Regions from separate parts of the Homo sapiens genome. Here region 2 is linked to region 1. A link means that fine-mapping ties the variant in region 1 to the expression of a gene that starts in the linked region. Tissue or cell type: hippocampus. Region 1 holds a variant in brackets; the other region holds the start of a gene. All regions are shown on one strand. Distances are from middle to middle.

Evidence for each region. PIP is the estimated chance that this variant, and not a neighbour inherited with it, causes the effect.
Region 2: DISP2 starts here. The variant in region 1 is fine-mapped to the expression of DISP2 in hippocampus (GTEx, PIP 0.97).

What each region holds. Positions count from the first base shown.
Region 1 is chr15:40,284,232-40,292,307 of GRCh38, reverse strand. PLCB2 (phospholipase C beta 2) reads left to right here. Exons shown (of 32, transcript NM_004573.3): 23 at 150-244; 24 at 384-459; 25 at 658-702; 26 at 821-1,043; 27 at 1,125-1,290; 28 at 1,471-1,547; 29 at 1,636-1,731; 30 at 2,226-2,283; 31 at 2,950-3,036; 32 at 3,390-4,399. The coding sequence ends at 3,593. Among named protein-coding and RNA genes, the nearest start is that of ANKRD63, 5.2 kb to the right of the region's middle. RefSeq lists enhancers at 1-455, 456-1,001. The variant G/C (reference allele first, on the strand shown) is at 4,033.
Region 2 is chr15:40,353,574-40,361,649 of GRCh38, reverse strand. It overlaps DISP2 (dispatched RND transporter family member 2), which reads right to left and starts at 3,431. Exons shown (of 8, transcript NM_033510.3): 1 at 3,210-3,431. The coding sequence starts at 3,328. It overlaps PHGR1 (proline, histidine and glycine rich 1), which reads right to left. Exons shown (of 4, transcript NM_001145643.2): 3 at 7,298-7,305; 4 at 5,216-5,577. The coding sequence ends at 5,347. It overlaps LOC124903472 (a long non-coding RNA gene), which reads left to right. Exons shown (of 4, transcript XR_007064597.1): 4 at 1-1,744. RefSeq lists a silencer at 3,251-3,510 and an enhancer at 6,721-7,246.

The DNA of each region.
Region 1 (8,076 bases):
GGTGTCTGTTCCCCCTTCCTTCCCATCAAGCCAGCTTCCAGAGTTGGGGTGGGATCCAGATGGGGCATCCTGGAGTGGGTGAGGACAGGGGAGACTTCCAGCCACATCTCCATATACACTATGTTGTAATGTCCTGTGCACCCACCCAGATCTCACTGTGGCCCTCGCCAACCCCATTAAGTTCTTCAGTGCCCATGACACGAAGTCTGTGAAGCTCAAGGAGGCCATGGGAGGTCTGCCTGAGGTCTGTGTTGCCTGCACTGCTGCCAGGGGCTCACCAGAGATTAGCCCTATTTATGGGAGAGGCTGGGGAGAGGGCCGAGTCCCAGGCTCGGGGAGAGAGGGCTGTCAAGCCACCTTCCTGACCTGCTCTCCCTACACAGAAGCCCTTCCCACTGGCGAGTCCAGTTGCCAGCCAGGTCAATGGGGCGTTGGCCCCAACGAGCAATGGGTCACCAGGTATGAGCTTCGGTCCGCACACCTACTGGGGGCACCTCCACCTCTGCACCCACAGGCACTTCCCTTTAAAAAATTTCACCTAGGGAAAGTGCGGGGCAGGGGGCACATACTGCGACTCCCAGGGGGCGGTGTGGAGGAGGCGAACGGAGCCAAGGGGCCCCCCAGAGCACCTGACAGCCCAGCCCGTGGCTCTTGCAGCAGCCAGGGCCGGGGCCAGGGAAGAGGCTATGAAAGAAGCTGCGGGTAAGGCCTGCTGAGCCCGGTGATCTCGGGGATGAGCCTGGGGCGGGTCCGGGGCTCCTTGGGGGTTGGACGGGCAGGACGGCCTGGCCGGTGTTGCGCCTCACCCGGGCCTCCGCAGAGCCGCGGACCGCCAGCCTGGAGGAGCTCCGGGAGCTAAAGGGCGTGGTGAAGCTGCAGCGGCGGCACGAGAAGGAGCTGCGAGAGTTGGAGCGGCGCGGAGCGCGGCGCTGGGAGGAGCTGCTGCAGCGGGGCGCGGCGCAGCTGGCGGAGCTCGGGCCACCGGGCGTGGGGGGCGTCGGGGCCTGCAAGCTCGGTCCCGGCAAGGGCTCTCGCAAGAAGAGGTAAGGCTCGTGGCGGTGCCCTGCCCTCTGCAGCGCGGGTGGCGCAGGATCTCAGGGCCTGTCCCCACGTGGCCTCCCCAGGAGCCTGCCCCGCGAGGAGAGCGCCGGAGCCGCGCCGGGCGAGGGCCCTGAGGGCGTGGACGGGCGCGTGCGGGAGCTGAAAGACAGGCTGGAGCTGGAGCTGCTGCGGCAGGGCGAGGAGCAGTACGAGTGCGTTCTGAAGCGCAAGGAGCAGCACGTGGCCGAGGTGGCCGGGAGGGGCAGGGCGACAACCCCACCAGCCCCACCGACCCCACCCCCCATGGACCCCATTCGCCCCTCTCACCGACCCAACCCCCTCACCGACTCCCCTCCACCGACCCCCGCCCCCCGTACTCCCTCTGAACAACAAAGGGCTTCTCGCCAAGCTTACTTCCTCTCCCTGCAGCAAATCTCCAAAATGATGGAGCTGGCCAGAGAGAAACAGGCGGCAGAGCTGAAGGCCCTGAAGGAGACGTCGGAGAAGTACGACTGCCTCCCTCCCACACCTGCTTCGCCTCCCAGCAAGGGCTCAGCCGCACAAAACAGCTCCTTCATGCCTGTCTCTCTGCAGCGACACCAAAGAGATGAAGAAAAAGCTGGAGACAAAGAGACTGGAGCGGATCCAGGGCATGACCAAAGTCACCACAGACAAGATGGCCCAGGAGAGGTGAGCCCTGGAGGGGAGGCCCAGGGCTGGGCAGACCCCACTTCAGGTGGAAAGGGGCCTCTCTACAAATGGATCCTGACTCACTTCCCAAAGATGCATCTGTCCCCTGGCTCTCCAAAAAGCGGATCCCCCCTGTCACCTTTGATCAGAGTGTCCTCCTCAGACAAAACACGGAGGCCAACACTACATGGGCAGAGCTCTGGAGGCAGCCAAGCCTGCAGGGAGGGAGCTGAGGCCTTGGGATTGTAGCCTGTCCACTGTGGTGGCACTGTTTCCCACGGAAGGACAGTGTGTTTTGATGGGGAAATGGTTCCCTCAGAGGGCCCCAGGACTCCCAGTGGCCCCTACATACTCCTTGGGTCCCCACACCTGCCCCCAGCTGGTTCCTGCCCTATGTTGGATTTCTCATTTGCCTACATCCTGCGTAGACTTCATGTTACCCTACTCTCCCTAGGGGTTTTCTCCCTTTTCTAAAACTCCAATTACACCAACAGGTTGAAGAGAGAGATTAACAACTCCCACATCCAGGAAGTAGTGCAGGTGATCAAGCAGGTGTGTAAGGGCTGTGTCCTTCCTAAACACACACACACACACACACACACACACACTCTCTCTCTCTCTCTCTCTCTCTCTCTCTCTCTCTCTCTCTTCACAAGTAGGAAGGGGTGGCCCCAGGCCCTGACTTTGCCCTTAGGAGATGCACTGCCTAGCGCTGTCCATGCAGCTGGGGTGGCAGGGGACATCCTGGGGTTCTGGCCTGTGTATGGAGGTTGGGGTACCAGCCTGAAGGGATCTGTCTCTGGCCAGTTCTCATGTGTGGAAATGATATGGGCTAACTGGCCCATATCAGGGCCAGGGGAGGCTGGGACTGGCGAGGGTCAGGGGATGAAGAGGGAGTGAGGAAGCTTCCTGAGGTGCCAAGGAATAATGGACCTGAAGCTCCCCTAGGGATCATTAACCACAGAACACAGCTGCCACCTACTGGGTCCTGACCTGTGCCAGGCACTCTGCCAGGTGCCTCACATGAGCTGTCTTGTATAATCTTTTACAGTCCAGTGAGACAGGTGCTGCTATCCTTATCTTACAAATTTTAAAAACTACCTAATGTTAAGGAATTTGCCCAAAGTCTTACAACTAGTTAGCTGGGATTACAGCTGGATTCTGACCCAGCTTGCCTGTCTGTGTTGTCCTGATTCTCTGCCATCCACTCCCACCCAGATGACGGAGAACTTGGAGAGGCACCAGGAGAAGCTGGAGGAGAAGCAGGCGGCTTGCCTGGAACAGATACGGGAGATGGAAAAGCAGGTAACAGGTTCACTACTGGGACCCCCAGCAGAACTGAATGGGTTCCGGGTTGTAAAGGGGCCTTGCCCCAGGGAGCTGCCAGTGAGAGGGTAGGGGAAGGGGGCCATCATCCTTCACTGTGGGGTCCCGAGGCCCTTTCAAATGAGGCAGCTCTGCAGATCTCCGCCTGGTTAGGATCCCCTTTCCTGAGAGGCTCCTGATGGGCTCTACCACTCCCCCACCCTGCCTCTCACCCCAGTCTCCTGGGAGCTCCGAACATGGATATTGGGCATCTCCTGTTCCCACTGTCCAGGGAGCGAGGGTGGCCAGCAGGCCCCTCCTGAGCCAGGCAGGGGTCCTTGCTGTCTCCACAGTTCCAGAAGGAGGCGCTGGCAGAGTACGAGGCCAGGATGAAGGGTCTGGAGGCAGAGGTGAAGGAGTCGGTGAGGGCCTGCCTCAGGACCTGCTTTCCCTCCGAGGCCAAGGACAAGCCTGAGAGGGCCTGCGAGTGCCCCCCAGAGCTGTGTGAGCAGGACCCACTCATAGCAAAGGCAGATGCCCAGGAGAGCCGCCTCTGATGCCCCCATCCCACTGGGACATTTAGCAAGGAGGTTCAGCCCCTTCTCTGGGATGTGGTTCTATTCCCCCAGGAAAAAGGAGCCCCAGCCTTCTGAGGCTGTGGGAACCTGTGGCTGCCTTGGACGCTGCAGCCCCCTCCTCAACGGCCAGGCCAGAGTCTGAGACAGGACCCAGGCACCCTCACGGCAGGGCCTCTCTGGGGCCTAGAAGTCTTCTCAAGCTGACTTCCTACCTCCCCCTCCATCTCTAGATAAGTGTCATATATTTGTTGAGGGCAAAAGACTATGGACTGGAAGGCAGAAAGTGGGATCCTGGCCCCACTCTGCCTTTCCTATTGAGCAACCAGCTCTGGGCTCAGTTTCCTCACCTGGAGGGTTGGACCCACTCACCTCCACTCTAGCCCCGAACCCTCCTGCCCCAGGCTTCCAGGCCCCATCA[G/C]GCCTGCCCTGAGTTGGCCTTGTCCACTCCTTGAGGCAGATCCTGGCACTACCTCACAGCTCCCTGGGGACGGCCACTCCCTGGCTGAGGGCCCTCCCCTCCCCTCTGCCTGTCCGGAACGGGAGGCTGAAATGGAAAAGCTGCCTTGGCCCTGCTTGGCTGAGTCACAAGGGGCAGTGGGCTCTTGGGTGCTGTTCCACCCTGACCCTGGCTCACCCCTCTTCCTAGGCCTGGGGGCAGGCAGTTCCTACCATGTACCCCTCTCAGGCTGCCTGCCTGACAAGGTCAGCATCATTTGCTCTCCTGAATTTATGAGGTTTATTTATTTTTCTCTTTCCTACTCCTATTAAAGAACCTCGTCCCAGTGTTTCCTGCTTAAGCCTGGTCTCTATTCTACAGGTAGAAAATGGGGGCAGGGTAGTGGAGTGCCCCTGAAATGAAACGGGCTGGGGAAAAAAAAATCTCTTGGGAGCTGAACCCAGGGTGAGGTCCTTTCCAGAGTCCAGTGAAATGGCCCTGCCTCTGGACTTGAAGAGGATTCATTTCCCCTTCTGCTGGCCCTGATGCCACAATCACTGGAAAATTATGTCACCCCCTCTTCGCCCCCACACAGATGTGGCCCTTCATTGTCTCCACTCTCGGGGTTGGAGCAGAAGAGCTGAGTGCAAAGATGTCCCCTATTTTAGGGGGAGTTCCAAACTTTTAGGCAATCTAGGCCCCTTTAGGAAGACAGAGTGGTTGGATGCTCAGGACCCTATGGCAGCTATGGTTGACCTCAAAACTTGCTGTGGAGGGGCTTGTGGGCAGCCACTCACTGCACCGATGACATGATCCCAAATCCCAAATAGGGACAGGCACTGGCTTAGGAGGCAGAGGGGGATTGATTCTGGGAAGAGGTTGTTTTCTTATTAGAGTTACAGCACATGCCGTTAGCTGTGAGCACCTGTTCCTTTGGAAAGTAAACAGGTCCTCCTGCCCCCACCCTGCCATCCCATCCCTCTGGGAGTCTGACCTCTGGGATTCTACCAGGCCCTGGCTGTAGGGTGAGGTGAGGGGGCTGATCATTTACTGGGCTAAGGCCTAGCATTGATCAGCCTGCTCCCTACATCATTACAGACTGGATACGCTGGGGCAGACCACCTATACCCCAGGGTGGTGCCCTATGTTCAACCCTTCTGCCAGGCACTGGGCTGTAAAGGTGAGGATTCGGGCCTAGAGGAACTCACTGACCCAGGCATGTGCACGTAAGCCAGAGCCAGAGCCCAATGGAGCCCACTGGGCAGCCCCCAGATTTTGCTGATGACTGTACAGGAGAAGGAAAAGCTGCCTTCCCCTCACCTCTGGGCCAGGCCACGCAGAGTCTCTGGGCTCCCAGTCTGGAGCTGGGTAGCCCAGGAATGGGGAAGGCGATGCAATCCTGCCCCCGGAGAGGCCTCTGCATAGCCGACTGGGGCCTTCCCATGTGGCCAGGCCTAGATACCTGCCTCCCTGCTTTCCTCCCAAAAAGGCAAGGTGTCCCTTAGGCAAATGCCATCTCTGGGTCCTGGAGATGAATTAGTCTCTGGCTGCAGGGGATGTATAGAAGAAGAGTTGACGCCTTCCCTTGGGGTACTGGGGCAGGTGAAGGACACCTGGGTTCCATCACTGCTGTGTATCTATGGGACTGGGGCAAGGCTCCCTTCACGCATCATGCCTCAGTTTCACCTTTTGCACAAAGAGAAGGGTCCCTACCCCTTTCCCAATTCCATTGCTGACTCAGACTCGAGTCCCCTGCTGACTCACCCCGCCCCCTGCATCCCCTGAGCAGCCCTCTGGATCTCCCAGACACATGCCACCAGGCCCAACCCTGCCAAGCTGGTGCAACGTGACAGCGTGAGGGGGCTGGTGACACTTGAGGAAAGAAGGGGCCTGAGAGGGAGGCAGTTGCAGACAGAGTGGCAGACCACACTGAGGCATCTTGGGGAGGGAGCCCTTCTGCCAGCCTGGGGCCTGCTGGGAGGACAGGCCCAGCAGGTGGGACAGGAGGGGAGAGGAGGGGAGGTGAGTATGACGTGCCTGCCTGCCCCCTGCCTGCCTGGGCTCCATCTCCTGTCAGCCTTCAGCTCCCTAAGCGACAGCTTCTAATTCCGGCTGTTGGTGCCTCTGTGCTCTGCAGCAAAGTCTCAGCTTTTTTTCAGCTTTGCTGTTTCTTTTCTGTTCAGAACATACTGAGCCCATAGAGAAGTCAGAGCAAAGGCTCCAGGGCTCGAGACCTGGCACCACCACCCCCTTCCTGCCATGGGAACCAACTGCTCCTTCCAAAGGGTACCCAGCACAGCACTTTCTGCCCCAACTCTTCTTCCCTGGAACTGTCTCAATCCACCACGGAGGAACAGGAACAGAAATGAAGCTCAGTTGTCTCAGGGAGGAGGGGCTCTTCAGGACCAAGAAAGTGCCCATTCTGGGTTTCTGCTGCTTCTCTCCTCCACCTGGGGGGGTGTGAGTCATGGCTTGTCAGGCTGGTGGGCCACACACAGGTTCCAGGGGTACACCCTCCTCTGACCTTGGAAATAGAAGGGAAGAAAGCAATTTCCCTCACAGTGCTGAAAAGAGAAGTTGAGTCATAAAGGGAAGAAAAGCCTTTCTTCTGCTGAGTAAAGGAGAGCATTCCTGCCCAGTTACTGGGGGTGGAGAGTCTCTATCCATTCCTGGGGGCCACCCCAGAAGGGGGCCCTAGCTCTGGGGCGGGAGCAGCTTTGAGGGCTGCACTCTAAATAACTATGCAGCTCTAGAAAACAAAACAAAACAAAATAAAAAAAATGAAATAACTATGCAGCTCTTTCCCTGACACTTTCTAACTTGTTCTTGTGTAAAGCAGGCAGGGCTGGTATTTATCAGTCTCATTTTGCAGCTGAGAATATGCAGGCTTGGAGCCACACTGCTAGTAAATGCCTTCAAGCTGGGACTTAACGCTGATGTCAGATCTGTGGCCTTTTCATGACACCAGGAAAGAAAATTGGCAGATCCCTGACCAAAGGCTTAACAAATGCAAAAAGAGAAAAGGGGGGCTTCGTAGTGGATGCAGGTACACATCACACGCTCCTCACGTGACAGAGGGGAGTGGGAGCCTCTGCTCCATGGCCTGGGTGCCAAATTCAAGGTGGACATCCCCGGAGCCTGGGAGCTGGAGAGAGGCAAGGGGTTCAGGGTGCAGGGCCATGAGCCCACTTTGCCACGCCTATCTATGCCCAGTACCTTTCCCCAGGCATCTCCTACTCCAAAGCATCTGCTCAGACTGAGAACACCATCATTCTTCCCTTATTTCCTGTCTCTGATAGGAAGGGACCCCTTAAAGCAGCCCTCAATAGTGTCCCCTGAAGGTTTATCCTGCTTCCAAGCCTTTGCCTCCAGAACCCGTCTGGAATTACTTCCTTTTTTTTTTTTTTTTTTTTTTTTTTTTGACGGAGTCTCACTCTGTCTCCAGGCTGGAGTGCAGTGGCGTGATCTCGGCTCACTGCAACCTCTGCCTCCCAGGTTCAAGCAATTCTCCTGCGTCAGCCTCCCAAGTAGCAGGGACTACAGGCGCGTGCCACCGCGCCCAGCTAATTTTTGTATTTTTAGTAGAGACGGGGTTTCACCATGTTGGCCAGGATGGTCTCGATCCCTTGATCTCGTGATCCGCCCGCCTCGGCCTCCCAAAGTGCTGGGATTACAGGCGTGAGCCACTGCACCCGGCCTGGGATTCCTTCCTTCTTTCTTTTGCAGCCAGATCCCGCACATCCTTGAAGGCCTATCTTTAAAAGGCCCGAGAGCCCTCTCCTGCCCACAACTCCATCTTTTCATCCAAGGACTGTGTTGGTACGTATTTAGCAGAAGAATTCAGCCCTCAGGTGACAACGTCCATTTTTTAAGTCCCAGTGTTGTCTTCTTAAGAGGTGGAACGTCTCGCACCCAGAACCGAGATTCTGTCTCTCTCTTACCCGCTGCCGGCAACAAAATGTGCGGCTCATGAAAAGTCTCAGTAAATTCTGCAGCTGATAACTGCTTTACTCCTTACTTTACAAA
Region 2 (8,076 bases), 69 kb before region 1:
GGCTGGCCCGGCAGTACAGGAGAGAATGACCTTCATGCTGAGGGTGAAATGGGGGAGCAGTGGAGGTGGGCTTCTGACTCAAACACCCTTTGGCTCTGGGGCCTTGGGAAAGACACACAATTCTTGGAGCATTGGCATCCTTGTCTGTTGAAGATATGAGATAATGCCCACCTCTTGGGTTTGGTGTGGGAATTAACTGATGTAACATATGTGAGGTTCCTGGCACAGGGTCTGTCACGTGGAAGACACGTTTGCTTTCCTGCCCCTTCCCACGGTCAGTGCAGCAGGGAGCATATACTTTTAGAAGTGTGTTTGTATTTACAATTTGTCCTCTTTTGGCACCTCAGATAATATATCTCCATTTTAGAACTTCTCACACCTTGAGAATCTCACTACCTATATAAATACTTTCCTTCTTGTTATCCAAAAGCTGCATTAAAATTTGATCTCATGATTTTAATCACTGATACTTATTTTTTACAAACTCAACATTTAGGAAAATAGGAATTTGACCAAAGTTGTTCTAAAGCAAGACCTCAGATGACTCCATAAAGTTAATAACGTAAGCAGCCAGTGTCCTGGCAGATAAAATACTCTGTAGGCCAATCCCTGTGGGCCAGTGAGAAGGTGGATAAATGGCCTAGGTTGTGTGTGTAAGTGTGGACATAGACCTCTTTAAGATGTTAAATTCTGCGGGTTTTTCTTGAGCACTGTCCTGTGCTTTAGCATTGTCCTTGCTCCTAGAGGCCTGAAGATGACCCATCAGCCTTGGTCTCCCTCTTCAGAGCAGGGCTTGCCTTCTAGAGGTCAGGAGAGTGGGGCAGCCTGGGTGGAGGTGGGGGGCCTGTTCCAGCTGCCCATGGCCTTAGATAACTGATCACTGGGCTTGTCTTAGGAGCCAGGGCCCCACTTGGAGTGTTGGTTTCTTTTGCATTAGGGGAAGCCAGCATTCCAGAGGATACGGGAGAAGAGTGGGTGCACTCTTGGTTACCCAGTTTTCTAAAACCTCCCAAGTCCACCCTTTTCCTTAGCTGGCTCTTGTTCAAGGGGGATCTTAGCCTCCACCACTGGTTTGCTTCTGCTGGAGTCTCCCTGGCCCCAGCTCCTTCCCTTTAACTCCTACTATTCCTCTTCAGGGACCTAGGATCAGCTGCCCCCAATCTCACCCTTCCTGACTGTGCCCACCATTATCAATGTGGCAGAATTTGAAACCTTCCATATTCTGACTGCTGTAGAGCCAGGCCTTTTCTTCAAAACTCCCATGAGAAAAACCGACCTCCACTCTTCTCAGAATAAAAGCTTTCTCTTGTCACCTCCTGCTGCCCTCTGATCTCAGGAGGCTCAGTAAAATAGGAGTTAAGCACCCCAGGGCTACACAGGGGTTTTTTATTCTCACTCCCTCAGTTCCATGGCCCTCACTGGGATGAGTAACTTCCAGGGTTGCCTGCCCGGGCCTGCAGGCCTGTACGCCAAGTGAGTAGGGCAGGCAGGGGGATGGAAAGTGGGGATGCAGGCCTCATTTAAGAGGCCAGCATCCCAGCAATCAGGGCCTGGCTGACAGGCTCCTAGACACAGAGACCAAACCTGGAAGCCCCATAAGGGGCAAATGTATATCGCATTAACTATACCCCCAAGCCCACAGACACACAGCCAGGTGAACATCAGTGTGATCCCACAGAGTGGCCAGGACAGATGGGGAAGCAGCTCATATCACTAGGAAAATAAAAAGGTAATTTTAAAAACACAAAGTGTGAACTATTTCAAATTCCTCTCTAGCCAGTGTGTGTGCACATGCGCATGTTGTGTGTGTGAGTTATTCACTGTGTATCTATCCCCAGAGTGCTACTCAGGTCAGCAGGAGCATTTTTGTGTTTCTTGAATCACATAAGCAAGTCCCTATGCCCAATTAGTGTCTATGGTCTCTGGAGAAGTCCAGAGAGGGGCCAGAGGCCCCAGGGAGTTTCTGGAAGAGAGCAAGTGGATCCTGTGCCCAGGGGAAATGAGACTGGACATGGCTGATCCTTGGCAAGATATCTGAGACAGCAAATGACTCTCCTGCCCCTTCTAGGGATGCTTCTGGCCCCAGGTCCTCGCTCTGTCCTGTCACTGCCCCATCTTTGATCAGGCCATAGTCCCAGGCAGGTCCCTGGACTGGTGAATACACCCATCCTGTGTCTCACCTTCTTGAAGGCTTTGTGACTTTCAGACTGAAGAGTGGCTAAATCTATCCAGGCTAATGTGTTAACAATAAAGGGAAGAAAGCATTTCTCTCTACTTGTGGGGCTTTCTCCCCCTCTGGGGTACAGAATGTACATTTTAACTGGGGTATTCTGGAGACGATGTGTCCACTTCTGCTATTGCTATCAAGGAATGCCTTTTATTTCAGTCCAGGCAGGAAAGAGGCAGTGTCATGTCAGAGGAGGGATTCTGGGGGCGGCAGAGCCAGGCAGGGCACAGAAATTGCGCCATATTGCTACCTAGCTGGGCTGTTCCCTCACACATATGGTGGAGGAAGGGAGAAGAGAGGTGCTGAGATCTGGGCCCTCAGCAGGAAGGTGTCCCTCCTGTCCCACCAGTATGGGGCTCCTCCAGGGGTGGTACAGGCCAGCAGCCTGAGCACCAAATCCTTCCCATCTTAGCGGCTCCAGCCAGTGTGGCTGCCACATGCAGGGACTGGAACCCACACGTGCACAGCTGGGGGTCATGCAGGGCAGGCAAGCGACTGATGGTGACAAAGACAGTCCCTGACGTGCCTGCCGAATGTCTGCCTTCCCCAGGACACCCGCCTTGGCGAGCCTCCCATCCGCGATTCACGCACACCTTCATGCACACTGGCACGCTGAAACCCGGACTGAGGTTACTGCGGGCTTGGGGCTTCCGGAGAAGACGCAGGGGCAGGGCCTAGAAGGAGGGGCCGGAGGAGCCAGGGAGTCCTGGCCTGAGAGGAGGGGTAGGAGCCGTGGGTGGGGCAGGTTCCCTAAGCGGGGAGGGCGATGGGGGCTGACACTAGGGGGTGTCAGGGAGCGAGGAAATTGACCCGGCAGGATGAGGGCGTGGCGAGGGGGGCCTGGAGCTTGGCGACCCCGGGAAGGGGCTCCGGGAGGGTCTGGGGAATGAATGGGGCAACATATGGCGGCTACTGGGGATACCTGGGGCGGGGAGGGTCTGGGAGGGTCTGTGATACGGATCTGCGGAGCTGTCCGCCCTACCTGTCCGGGGAGCCGCCGTCTGGGGCCAAGGGCTCCCCCTCGGGCCGTTGCTCCCCTTCCGGACCCGGGCCGGGAGCCGGACCGCTGCCGCCGCTGCTGCTGCTGCTGTCACCGTCCATGCCCGTGGGCGGCACCGCTGTCCGGGCGCTGGTGCTGAAGCCGCGGCGGCGGCGGCGGCGGCGGCGGTGGCGGCGGCAGCGGCGGCGGGGTGCTCGTGCGCATGCGTAGGCTCTGAGCGGGCCGGTCGCTGGGCGGGGCGAGGAGGAGCCCAGCCAATGGGCGCGGCGCCGCTGCCGGAGCGGAGCGCTCTGTCTCTAAGATCCCGGGGCTGCGGATGTGAGCGCCCCTCTGCTCCCGCCAGGCCAGAGAGCCGCTGTTAGGAGTCCGGCCGTGCAACCCTTCCTAGCGGCCTCGGCCTTCCCGTAAGGAACCAGAGAGCGCGACACATGCAGAGATCCTCACAAATCAAAACGCAGACCCTTCCAGCCGGATAGAGGGCGAGCTCCACGCCCGCACTTCACCACGCTGGACGCCCCGGGTCGAGGCGGGCGGCTTCAGGCCTGCGAGGTTCCCGGCTCGCTCAGCGCCCTCCTCCCCTCCCCAGTGGGGCGAGGCATCAGGTTGGGTCTTTCTTCCCATCCTTCTGGACTTCGACTTGGACCTGGGTGTGCACCCCTTAGATGCGGAGCCCTGACTCCGTTACTCAAGTGCGCAGTCTGGTGAAGGAGGTGGGGGAAGAAGAGAGGCGCTCAGATCATCCCCAGCTCCTTCTCTTTCTTTTTTAAAATTTAAAAGGTTTATAAAGCAAACAAATCACAGTAAGCTAAGGTTAATTTTTGATTCAGGGGCACATGTGCAGGTTTGTTATAAGGGTATATTGAGTGATCCCAGATCCTTTTTTATAGTCACCGCTGCCCCCCCACCCCACCTCAGCCTGGGAGGTGCCCAATAGCCACTGACTCCAGGGCACTGGGAGGTGCCCAATAGCCACTGACTCCAGTGCCACCTCCCCCACCAGGGAGTAGCTGTGAGTAGAGCACATTTGGGTATGATGGACTGTGGACAGGCCTGGCTAAGGGGTCTAGAACTAGAATAGATATTGGCAGTGTGAGAAGCCTGGGGGGCTGGGAGTGGAGAGGATCCTGGATGTGGGATTTGACTAGGCAGAAAGGGTTTTACAGCAAGCAGGCTGTTCAGGGCCTGGTTACTTGTGCAGGGAGAGGCCTTGGTTGAAGACATGGGGCTGAGGAGAGAGTCAGGAACACTTGGACTATAGGTATCCCTAAAATGTGTGCCAATGCCAGTCCGTGTAAGACACAGGTCATAAGAAATGGGGTGGAAGAATCTAGAGGTGTAGAAGTGTTGGGTCTGCCCTGAATAGCTTATAGTTTGGTTGGAGAGATAAAGGGCCAGCCCATAAATTGCTGCCAATAGGCAAGATATGGTGAGGCCCATGAGGTGGTTGAGAAGGGGACAGTATGCAAAAAGGAAGGACCTCTTTCTTCCTAATAGGCCTTAGAGAAGGCTTCTTGGAGATGGTGGGGCTTCAGCTGGCTTGGAAGAAAGGGTGGGCTTTGAAATGTGGAGGTAGGAGAGAGGGAAGGCCTTCCTGACCTGGGGTGGGGGCATTCTTCCTTACCTGTGCAAACAAAGGTAAGGGGGCTGGAAAGTTCAGTGTATTTTAAGGGAATGGTGAGAAACCATCTGGATTGGAGGGAGGCTTCTGGTCTGTAGAGTGAGGCATGCAAGCTGCAACCTTGGAAGGCCCACCAGATCTGGATGTACAGGATGGCATAGAGGTAATGAGGCCACACTTGAAGTTCCTCGATGGGAGGGCACAGGAGTGAAAAGGAAAGGAGAGGTGACCTTACACAGCCATTTATAGTGAGCACCATGGCATTAAGCTTCTGAGAATGCCAGGATGGTTGCCCCATCTTCACAACTAGGGAGCTTGGAGACAACTGGGTCCTCTGACAGCCAGGTTGGATATGAAGGAAGACAGGCTCTTTAAAGAATAGAATGTGGCCTCTAGGAGGCTGTTTATTAGGAAGAGAAGATTGTGGTTTAGGCCTCATTCCAGGTCAGCTGGGCAATTCTCTCAGGCTTGCCATCTTGTGTCCTGTTTTCTTCTACTTCCTCAGTGATGTGGACCAGGGGGTGGGTGACCTGGGCCATGGCCAGGGGGAGGCCCGCAGGGCCCTGGACCATGGTGGGGGGGTGGCCCGCAGGGCCCTGGGCCATGGCCAGGGGGTGGCCCGCAGGGCCCTGGACCATGGTGGGGGGGTGGCCCGCAGGGCCCTGGGCCATGGCCAGGGGGTGGCCCGCAGTGACCTGGAGGATGGCCATGCCCCCCACAGTGGCAGTGCCCCTGTGGAAAGTCAAATGAACAATGTCAGAGTCAGAGGTCAGGGCTAAGCTTACCTGAGATCAGCTCTCCCTCACTCCACTTCCCTGGGGGACTCAGGATTTCTAGGCAAGTAAGGAGTTGCGGTGGAGGGCTGGGGGCATGGGTAGCATGTCCCGTGCCTTTTGCCTTGGTGAGGCCAGAACACTGAGCAGATAAAAGGCAAGCAACCTAGATTTATTGGTTTCTATTCTTTGAGCCAAGATATGACTCCCGCTCCCTGTACCTCGATTTATTTTATTTGCAACTAAGAAGCAGAATTATTTCATCTTCTCCTTTCTCTCACCCAGGAACCCTTGCAGAGTGATTAGAGGCTTTGCCATGCTAGGAACTGCAGGCTCATTGTACTTAGGAGCAAGGGTGAGGCTAGAGGAGGCTACAGAAGAGCTCTTTGAAGGCCAGGGGCAGGGGGAGACAGGAGGCTGGGTCAGGGGAGATGAAAGAGCTGAGGAGGGGAAGAAGGAAGACAGTTGGAGGATGAGAAGACACGGAGGGTAGGAGGTGGCAAGGTGAGGATGTATGTATTCTTTTTATAGGTAGTGTGTATGTGTGTAGACGGTGTGTGCCATATTTATATAAAATAGCTATGTTTGTGTACGTGTGCATGGGTGGGTTCATATTCAAGCTTGGTATGTACACAGATACGTGCATGGAGTGCATGGTTCTGTGTACATGAGTATGTGCGAGCTCATACCTGTTCCTGAGCGGATGCCAGACCCAAGAAATCAGGAAGAATAGAAAGTAAAATCAAAGCTTTTCTGCCTCAGTCAGAAGAGGTCTGGAAAAAGTGTGGTTTAACCTTCCATCTTGGCTGGAATCATTCCTGAAGTCCCAAGGCCAGGGGAGTTTTTTGTTTTTTTTTTGTTTTTTTAACTTTTTGCCACAAGCCCAGGGGGCAGGCAAGAGATACCACCTTGCTTCTGTGGTAGGGGACTCGGGGTCTGGGGCCCTGTGGAGCAGGGCGGGGCTATGCTCCCACTGTCTGGGCTGGATAACTCCCCAGTCTCCTTCTGCCTCCTAGGGCTTGATTAGGGCTTGGTACCAGTGGGGAAGAGGCAGGCTCCAGGGCTGGGCGCTTTCCTGTGACCATGGTAGAGCAGCCCCTGCCCCATCCAGGCTCAGTGATGCCTGGAAACAGCCACTTCCCACCCCACCTGCCTCTCTGCCTATGGCTCTTTTGTTTGGGGGTTGGCACACAGACCAGGCCTAGGAACTGAGTCTGCTGGTGGTAGCCAGTGGGTGAGAAGAGGTGGAGGAGACGCAGTCTCCTTTCTCTGGCAGGAGTAGGTCCTAGGGGCCCCATAGTGTGGTTGGAGTTTGGGAGCAAGCCAGCTATCCAGCAAGGCTGTGGGGGTAGCCAGGAAAGCAGAAAAGCATAGCACAGGCGGGGAAGCAGCAGGAGAGAGGATGGGCTGCTAGGGCAGGGAGGGGACGTGAGGAAAGGAGAGAGACAGATGGGAAAACAGAGGAGAGAACGCCAAGAAGGCTGCAGCCAGCAGGGGGTGGAGGAGTGCAGCGCTGCCCACCCCACCCCCACTCCACGGGGCTGCTGCCTGAGCCTGCTCCCTTCTTTTCATTTGGGGGAAGTGGTGGCTGCTCCCTGAGGGTCTAGGAAGGAGGCTAGGGGTCTGGAGGACATGACAGTGGGAGGAAAAAGGGGAGACCATTGGGGGAACTTTCCTACCTTCGGACCTGTGGGAGAGGAAGGGAAAAAAAAGAAGCAGCTTTGGTCATTTGGTTCTGCAGTAAAAAAAAACCTGTCTTCTCCCTGGCACTAAGGATTTTGTGCCCACACCCCTAACCCAACAGGGCCTCTCAGACATGGTCACTTGCCTGACAATCATTCCTTCATTCATTCTCTCAGCAAAGATACATATTGGAAGTCAATATAAGGTTCAGCAGTGTGTCCCTGTGTGCTCAAGGGCTGGCTGAGTCCTCCTGGGTGGAGTGGCGCCAGTTAGGAGGTATGGGTTCTTGTCTCAACTCTGTCAGCCTGGAGGTGCTCCATGGTGGCCAACCCTGTCATCCACCTGATTCTTGCTTCTACCTCCAGGCCAGCAGCCCTGCCAACCTCCCCATCTGTCCTCTGCCCCTGTCACGCCCCACGTATCTCGGCCCAATCTCTGCTCAGCCTCTCAGAGCTGTTTGTTGTCTCCTGTTTATGACCTTCTGTTCTCAGCTCTTGGCCTTTGCTCATGCCTCCTCCCACTTGGAAATCTCCCTGGAGCAGCTGCGTGTTGCCCTCATGCAGGAAATCCACATGGGAGCCATCCAGGCTGCCCAGCTGTGGGTCCACTGGGCTCCTGCAGCACCCACCTGAGTGGTCCTGCATGTTCTGAAGTGCCCCATTGGTGTGGGAATCACCTGCTACTTCTTAAAGGCTAGGACGGTCTTTTGTTCATTTCGAGGGAAGCCGATGGCACAGCTCCCAAGAACTGGATTCTGGATTCCGACCCAGCTGCA